Regions from separate parts of the Homo sapiens genome. Here region 1 is reported to be linked to region 2. Evidence: microRNA targets listed by miRTarBase, many of them from high-throughput screens and not tested one by one. Region 2 holds a microRNA gene; the other region holds the end of a gene's coding sequence.
What was found. Region 2 holds the annotated microRNA hsa-miR-520h (ACAAAGUGCUUCCCUUUAGAGU, at 2,804-2,825, shown strand). A microRNA usually pairs through its seed, bases 2 to 8, with sites in the 3' UTR of a target mRNA and lowers its output. Matches are read on the target gene's strand: a 7mer-m8 pairs with bases 2 to 8, a 7mer-A1 pairs with bases 2 to 7 and ends in A, and an 8mer does both.

Region 1 (4,042 bases), not on the chromosome of region 2:
CAGAGAGGAGCCTGGCTGGGCTGGCTTCTTTGTCCTCTCTCCTTTCCCCGCATGGGGCCCTGACTTTATTGTTTCCGCCCCTGCCGCCATCCTCCCTGTCCCAAGTTCCTCGTCTATCCCTACGGGATCCCCGCCCCCTTTCATGTTCTGACGTCCATTTTCTTTTGTCTCCATCCAGGATTCCCCTCTAAAGACCCTCATGTCCCACTATGAGGAGGCCATGGGACTGTCGGGACGGAAGCTCTCCTTCTTCTTTGATGGGACAAAGCTTTCAGGCAGGGAGCTGCCAGCTGACCTGGGCATGGAATCTGGGGACCTCATTGAGGTCTGGGGCTGACACCCCACTCCCTGTTTGACGGCCCAGCCTGGACTTGGGGAGAATGACTTTCCCTTTTTTGCCCCATAAGGGCTAGCATAAGCTGAGGTAGAACTTATCTTTAAGCTGCAGCAAAATCAAGGAGTGACTTTTGTCCCCTCTCCTGTTGACCCTGGTTTAGAGCCGTTAACCACTTGGTGAGTTATGTGGGTGTTGTTGCCCTGGGTGGCCTGTGGCTCCGTCCACAAGTCATGCTGAGTTTTGCAGCCTCTGTGACTTGGAGATGTCCCTTCACCCCTCCCCTTTCACCACCATCCTCTTTTCCTCATGGAAATGTCTGCTTTATGAAACTATGCACATATTGAAAGTGAGTTGAAACAAATGAGGGTTGGGTAGGAGCTTCCAGGCCTGGGATTTACACCACGCCTAGCCCAGCAGAGGCCTTAGTCCCATTTGGGGCTTGGGAGTGACATTTGCTTGAGGCTTATACACTGGTGTGGTTGCCTGGCTTGCAGGAAATGACCAAGCTCACACATGCTGGCTGAAGCGTAAGCAGACAACTGAGGTACTCTTTTGAAGGATGAAGGTGGTGGATTCTCAGCCCTGGGGGTCTTCCTCACCTGAGGACCCTTCAGAGCCACCCTTTCTAGTTTGCATTTCCTGGTGCACACATTTAAGGCATAACAGCACATTCATCCCTTTGGTTTGGGATCTCAGGAATACAGTCCCATGCAAAGATTCTCTGGTTTTATGGCTTTTTTCCCTTTCTTTACACCATCCTCTCCCATAAGCACCCATGTCTTTGAATATGAATGTATTTGTAAAATACCACGTTTCATGTGTGAATATGTGCTTTTACTGTACATAGTGCTATTGTGCAATAGGTCTTATGCTGTTTTCACTCAATGTGTGCTAAGATCTAGCCCCATTGACTCTTCTAGAAATGCAGTATTGCTTTGACCTGCCATGTGGCACTCCACAATGTCAATTGCAGTTTACACACATTGCCTAAAGTGGGGGACACCTGGGTGCCCCTGACCCCTTGGCACCGGATACAGGCCACGATAAACATCCTTTCGTGTGTTCCCTTCTGTGCTTGTGTGGCATGTGTACCCAGGATGGGCCTATAGGTCACAGAGGTCAGTTTCTCTTTGGTTTTCCAGATTTTCTTTAGAACGGTGACTGACCCTCCTACTTGAGGCCGCCCTTTTCTCCTTATCCTTGCCAGCACTTGTATTGCCAGACTACCTAATTTTTGCCAGTCTCATGGGTAGATAGTGGTGCAGTGCTTTAACATACATTCATCTGATCAGCATTAATTTGGGGAATTTTTTCACTTAGCCTTTCTGGTTTCCCTTCCTGTGCATTGCCCATTTTCTCATGGAGTTTCTTATCTTTTTTGGTTTATTCTCAGGAGTTGCTTGTACATTCTTGGGCAATTGCAGATAATTCCAAGAATGCATATTTGGGCTGGGTATGGAGGTTCACTGGTAATCCCAGCACTTTGGGAGGCCCAGGCAGAAGGATCGCTGCAGCCCAGGAGTTCGAGACTAGCCTGGGCAACATAGCGAGACCTCGTCTCTACAAAAAAAAATTAAAAAGGGGGCTTTGGGAGGCCAAGGCGGGCAGATCATGAGGGCAGGAGATTGAGACCCTCCTGGCCAACATGGTGAAACCCCGTCTCTACTAAAATACAAAAAATTAGCTGGGCATGGTGGCGCACACCTGTAGTCCCAGCTACTCTGGAGGCTGAGGCAGGGGAATCGCTTAAACCCAGGAGGCGGAGATTGCAGTGAGCCAAGGTTCCACCACTGCACTCCAGCCTGGCGACAGAGCAAGGCTCCACTCAAAAAAAAGATTTAAAGGGGAAAAAATTGAAATTTTCTTTGTATCTAGGGGTATCCGTCACTGAACAGAAATTCTTAATTTTGGCTAGGCGTGATGGCTCAGGTCTGTAATCCCAGCACTTTCGGTGGCCGGGGTGGGTGGATCACTTGAGGCCAGGAGTTCAAGACCACCCTGACCAACTTGGTGAAATCCCATCTCTACTAAAAATACAAAAATTAGCTGGGTGCAGTGGCGCATGCTTGTAATCCCAGCTACTCAGGAGGCAGAGGCAGGAGAATCACTTGAACCCGGGAGGTGGAGGCTGCAGTGAACAGAGACAGTGCCACTGCACATCAGCCTGAGTGACAGAGAGACTTTGTCTCAAAAAAAAAAGAAAATTTTAATTTTAATGTAGACAGTATGAATTATCTTGTTCTGCAGTTGGTTGCTTTTTGATTGCTTATTTAATAGAGTTGTTAAGATATTTTACATCTTCTCCTGTTAGCTGTTCAGCTTTTCCTTTCATATTGAGAACACTACACAGTGCTGAAGTCCAGCTGGTACACACCGGGGTGACACCTTGGCTGCATCTGTTCTCAACAGTCAGACACTTCTTCTAATTGGTTGATGCTGGGCTGTACTGGTTGCTAAATATTGCACATCATTTTAAAACTATTTGAGATGCACTTTTGTACTCAGGAGGCCAAGGCAGGAGGATTGCTTGAGCCCAGGAGTTTGAGACCAGCCTGGGCAACACAGCGAGACCTTGTCTCTTAAAAAAAAAAAAAAAAAAAAATGAGAGAAATCGGCTGGGCATGGTTTCTCATGCCTGTAATCCCAGAACTTTGGGAGGCTGAGGCAGGTGGATCACCGGAGGTTAGGAATTCAAGACTGAAACCTTGTCTCTACTGAAAATACAAAAAAAAAAAAAAAAAAAAATGAGCTAGGTGTGGTGGCAGGCGCCTGTAATCCCAGTTACTTCGGGAGGCTGAGGCAGGAGAATCGCTTGAACCCAGGAGGCAGAGGTTGCAGTGAGCCAAGATCGCGCCATTGCACTCCAGCCTGGGCGACAAGAGTGGAAACTCTGTCTCAAAAAAAAAAAAAAAAATTCAGTGAAATACACCTTTATATATGAGATCCAAGTTTCACTTTTTGTGATATAATGAGCCAGTTTTCTCAGTAATGTCTACTAAAAAAAAAGCCATTAACCTTTCTCTAATATTTGCATGATTCTAATAAAAGTATGTCAACTTCTTAAAATGTTTTATTGAAATGTGGCATTCCTTTGAATTTTATGACATTAAAATAATCCACGACATGGTACAGCTCTTCACTTTTTCAGCTTTTTAAATGTCCATTAATAAGTTTGAATACGTTAAAATTATATGTTTAACCTCAACAAAATAAATGGCAATATGTTCAACTTGTGTATACTGGAGGATTTTTGTCTTTGTGGCCCTCATGTGACCCCCACTAAGATCCTTGTGACAGAGACAGGAATAAGATCCTTATTCCTTCACATCCATTCTTCCTCCTTCTGTGGTACTAGAACCCATGGTTTTTAGCGAGGCACAGAGACACTCAGAATAAAAACAGTGGCCAGGCATGGGGGCACACACCTGGAATCTACCTAGCACCCTGGGAGGCTGACGTGGGAGGATCGCTTGAACCCAGGAGGTTGAGGTTGCAGTGAGCTATGGTTGTGCCAACCCACTCCAGCCTGGGCAACAATCAAGACCCTGTCTCAAAAAAAAAAAAAAATTAAGACAGTACTTCCTGGCTTCCACTGTAGCTAGATGTAGCCAAGTGCCAATACAGGCTCCTGGGGTGTAAGTGGAATGGGGTATCACTTCCCAGAAGTGTGCATAGCGGGCAGCTTGTCCCCTCTCTTTCACTTGC
Region 2 (4,526 bases):
ATTTCTCCATGTTGGTCAGGCTGGTCTCAAACTCCCGACTTCAGGTGATCTGCCCACCTTGGCTTTCCAAAGTACTGGGATTGCAGACAGCCACCGCGGCTGGCCTTCATATATTCTTATATATATAATATCATGTACACACAAAAGACTCTTTTACACCCTGAGAATACTCTTATATCACTTTGGGCATTTTTTTGTTGGTGTGTGCATTTTTTGTTTGTTCGTTCGTTTGTTTTTGAGACAAGATCTGGCCCTGTCACCTATGCTGGAGTGCAGTGGTGTGATCTCGGCTCCCGGCAACCTCAACCTCCCACCTCAGCCTCCTGAATTAGTGTCTACAGGCATGCACCTCTATACCTGGCTAACTTTTGTATTTTTACAGATGAGGTTTTACCATGTTTCCCAGGCTGGTGTCTAACTCCTGAGAATATAAGGTATATGTAGTAGGCGTTGCTTTTTCTCTTTGAAGACAAAACCCAGGACAGTTGTCCCTCGATGAACAAGGCTAACCTGCTGAACGTTTGAAGCAAGGAACTGGAGATGGTCTTTGTATCGGTTTATGTTCTAGATTCCAGAAAATATGCAAACAGGACCAATAAATGCATCTTTATTTTTGTGTCCATTTTGACCAGGTCAAGGAAAATTTCAACAAGAAACCCAGAGTGCCGGAGCAAGAAGATCTCAAGCTGTGAGTCTACAAAGGGAAGCCCTTTCTGTTGTCTAAAAGAAAAGAAAGTGCTTCTCTTTGGTGGGTTACGGTTTGAGAAAAGCAACGTTGAAGTTGATGCTGATTTCGGTAATACATTTGCAGAGCATGCTTATCACACTTGGACGATGGTGGGGTTCTGTTTTGGTTTTGCTTTTTTATTCTAAGGCTCTGTGTTGCTCATGCTGGAGTGCAGTGACATGTCCAATATATCTCTTGGCTTCAAATGGTCAGCCTGGGCAACACAGGGAAATTCTGTCTCAAAAAATAAACAAATGAATAAAAATACAAAATAAAGCCGGGCATGGTGGCTCATGCCTGTAATCCCAGCACTTTGGGAGGCCGATGCAGGTAGATCATCTCAGGTCAGGAGTTTGAGACCAGTCTGACCAACGTGGTGAAAATCCGTCTCTACTAAAAATACAATAACAACAAAAATTAGCCCAGTGTGGTGGTGGGCACCTGTAATCCCAGCTACTTAGGAGGCTGAGGCAGGAGAATTGCTTGAACCCGGGAGGCAGAGGCTGCAGTGAGCCGAGATTGTGCCACAGCATCCAGCCAGGATGACAGAGTGAGATTCCGTCTGAAAAAAAAAAAAAAAAAAAAAAGCTGGGCGCTGTGGCTCACGCCTGTAATCCCACCACTTTGAAAGGCCGAGGCGGGTGGATCACGAGGTCAGGAGATCGAGACCATCCTGGCTAACACGGTGAAACCCCATCTCTATTTAAAAATACAAAAAATTAGCGAGGCGTGGTGGTGGGTGCCTGTAGTCCCAGCTACCCGGGAGGCTAAGGCTTGAGAATGGCTTGAACCCAGGAGGCGGAGCTTGCAGTGAGCCGAGATCGTGCCATTGCACTCTAGCCTCGGCAACAGAGCAAGACTCCGTCAAAAAGAAACAAAAACAAAAACAAAAAAAAGAACCCTACAGTACTGGAGCAAGAAGACCTCATGCTGTGACCCTCTAGATGGAAGCACTGTCTGTTGTCTAAGAAAAGATCGTGCATCCCTTTAGAGTGTTACTGTTTGAGAAAAGCAACGTTGAAGATGCTGCTGATCTTGGTAATACATTTGCAGAGCGTGCTTATCATCAGACTTGCATGATGTTGGGGTTCTCTTTGGTTTGTTTTTTTCCAAGACAGGTTCCCTGTTGCCCAGGCGGGAGTGGGTGGCACCTCCAACCGAGATCTCTTGGGCTCAAGTGGTGATCTTTTTATTTTTGATTTTTTGAGATGCGCTCTCATTCCGTTTCCCAGGCTGGAGTGCAGCGGCAGGATCCCTGTTGACCGGAAACTCCGCCTCCCAGCTTCCGGCGATTCTCCCACCTCAGCCTGCCGAATAGTTGGGAATAGAGATGCCCGCCATCGTGTCCTGCTAGTTATTATTTTTATTGTTGTTGTTGTTGTTGAGATGGAGTTTCACTCTTGATGTCCAGGCTGGAGTGCAGTGTTGCAATTTAGGCTCACTGCAACCTCCACCTCCTGGGTTCAAGCGATTCTCCTGCCGCAGCCTCCTGGGTAGCTGGGATTACAGGTGCCTACTGCCCCACCCAGCTAATTTTTGTGTTTTGAATAGAGACTGGGTTTCACCATGTTGGGCAGGCTGGTCTCAAACTCCCGACCTCAGGTGATCCACCAGCCTTGGCCTCCTAAAGTGCTGGGATTACAGGCGTGAGCCACCGCCCCTAATCTCACGTGGTCCTCTAGAGTCAGCCTAGACTCTGGTCTATCCTGGAGGATGTTTGTGTGTGAGACAATGTATATTCTTCAACATCAGCCCAATTCTCTTAGCTAAATGTAAGGTATGAGTAGTAGGTATTCCTTTTTCTCTTTGGGGACAAAACTCAGGACGATCGCCCCTTGATGAACAAGGCTAACCTGCTGAGCCTTTGAAGCAAGGAATTGGAGATGGTCCTTTCAGGGGTTTATGTTCTGGATTCCATAAAACATGTAAACAGGGCCAATAAATGCATTTTTATTTTTGTATCCGTTTTAACCTGGTCAAGGAAAATTCCAACAAGAAACCCAGAGTGCTGGAGCAAGAAGATCCCATGCTGTGACCCTCTAGAGGAAGCACTTTCTGTTTGTTGTCTGAGAAAAAACAAAGTGCTTCCCTTTAGAGTGTTACCGTTTGGGAAAAGCAGTGTTGAAGTTGATGCTGATGTTGGTAATATATTTGCATGCTTATTATCAGACTTGGATGATGTTGGGGTTCTGTTTTGTTTTTGTTTTCTAAGACAGGGTCTCTGTGGCCCAGGCTGGAGTACAGAGGCACTTCCAACCTAGGTCTCTTGGGCTCATATGGTCCTTTTTGGGACAGTCTTCCTCTGTGACCCAGGCTGGAGTGCAGTGGCACGATCTTGGCTCACTGCAATCTCCACCTCGCGGGTTCAAGCTATTCTCCTGCCTCAGCTTCCTGAATAGCTGGGATTGCAGGGGCCCGACATCACACTTGGCTAATATTTGTATTTTTCTTTTTTATTCATTTATTTATTTTTGAGATGGAGTCTCGTTTCCCCAGCTGGAGAGCGGTGGCATGATCCCGACTGACTCCAACCTCTGCCTCTCAGGTTCAAGCAATTCTCCTGCCTCAGCCTCTGAAGTAGCTGAAACTACAGGTGGCCGCCACCACGCCTGGCTACGTTTTGAATTTTTTTTTTTTTTTTTTTCAGTAGAGATGGGGCTTACCATGTTGGCCAGGCTGGTCTCAAACCCCTGACCTCAAGTGAGCCACTCACCTTGGCCTCCGAAAATGCTGAGAATACAGGCATGAGCCACCACCGCGCGCCTCCCAAAGGCGTGAGCCATGGTGCGTGGCCATCAACACCTCTTACTTTATGGAAATTTTTCTGGCACTGGTATAGAACCTCACATGGGGTCAGGTGGAGTTGAGGGGACCTCAGTGTCCCTGCAGATGGGATGAGCAAGAGCACGGAGGTGGAGTGCATGGGGCTTCAGTGTGTATTGGGGAAATGAAGCTGAAATCTTGGGTGCATGACCAGGAGATAAATGCATGAGACGGGGGTCTCACTATGCTGCCCTGGCTAAAGTGGTCTTAGATCCTCCTGCCTCTGCCCCTCCCAGGCCTTGTTAGATGGGACTACATGTAAATATTAACCCATGCACAGGCAGGAAGAAAGTAAGGACCATTTTTTGGTTCGTCCCGGCCCTCAGTTAAACTTGTGTTTTAGATAAACAATGTATTTGAGATGTGCTTAAACAATAAATGATACGCTATTTAGGTGTGGGCATCTTTGTTTCCCCCTAATTTTAATGATGGGACTAGTCCAGGTATGGTGGCTCCTGCCTATAATTCCAGCACTTTGGGAGGCCGAGACAGGAGGATCACCTGAGGTCAGTTGTTCGAGACCGGCCTGGCCAACATGGTGAAACCCCGTCCATACTAAAAATACAAAAATCAGCCAGGCCTGGTTGCACACACCTGTAATCCCAGCTACTCGGGAGGCTGAGGCAGGAGACTCGCTTGAAGCCAGGAGGCTGAGCTTTCAGTGAGCTGAGATTGCGCCACTGCATTCCAGCCTGGGCAACTGAGTGAGTCTCAGTGTCAACAAAGTAAATAATAGTCTAGGCACAGCGGCACACGCCTGTAATCCCAGCACTTTAGGAGGCTAAGACGGGAGGATCACCTGAGGTCAGGAGTTCAAGACCAACGGGGCCAACGTGGCAAAGCCTTGTCTCTACTAAAACTACAAAAATTAGCTGGGTGCGGTGGTGCACATCTGTGATTCCAGCTACTCGGGAGGCCAAGACAGGAGAACCACTTGAACCCAGGAGGAGGCGATTTCAGTGAGCTGTAATGAAGC

Region 1: the mRNA of NFATC2IP is a reported target of hsa-miR-520h. Seed matches in the 3' UTR shown: 7mer-m8 at 1,817-1,823.

Annotation. Positions count from the first base shown.
Region 1 is chr16:28,963,527-28,967,568 of GRCh38, forward strand. NFATC2IP (nuclear factor of activated T cells 2 interacting protein) reads left to right here. Exons shown (of 8, transcript NM_032815.4): 8 at 179-3,566. The coding sequence ends at 337. It overlaps NFATC2IP-AS1 (NFATC2IP antisense RNA 1), which reads right to left and starts at 2,918. Exons shown (of 2, transcript NR_186408.1): 1 at 2,890-2,918.
Region 2 is chr19:53,719,417-53,723,942 of GRCh38, forward strand. It overlaps MIR520G (microRNA 520g), which reads left to right and starts at 2,750; the gene lies at 2,750-2,839. MIR520D (microRNA 520d) reads left to right here and starts at 680; the gene lies at 680-766. It overlaps MIR517B (microRNA 517b), which reads left to right and starts at 1,660; the gene lies at 1,660-1,726.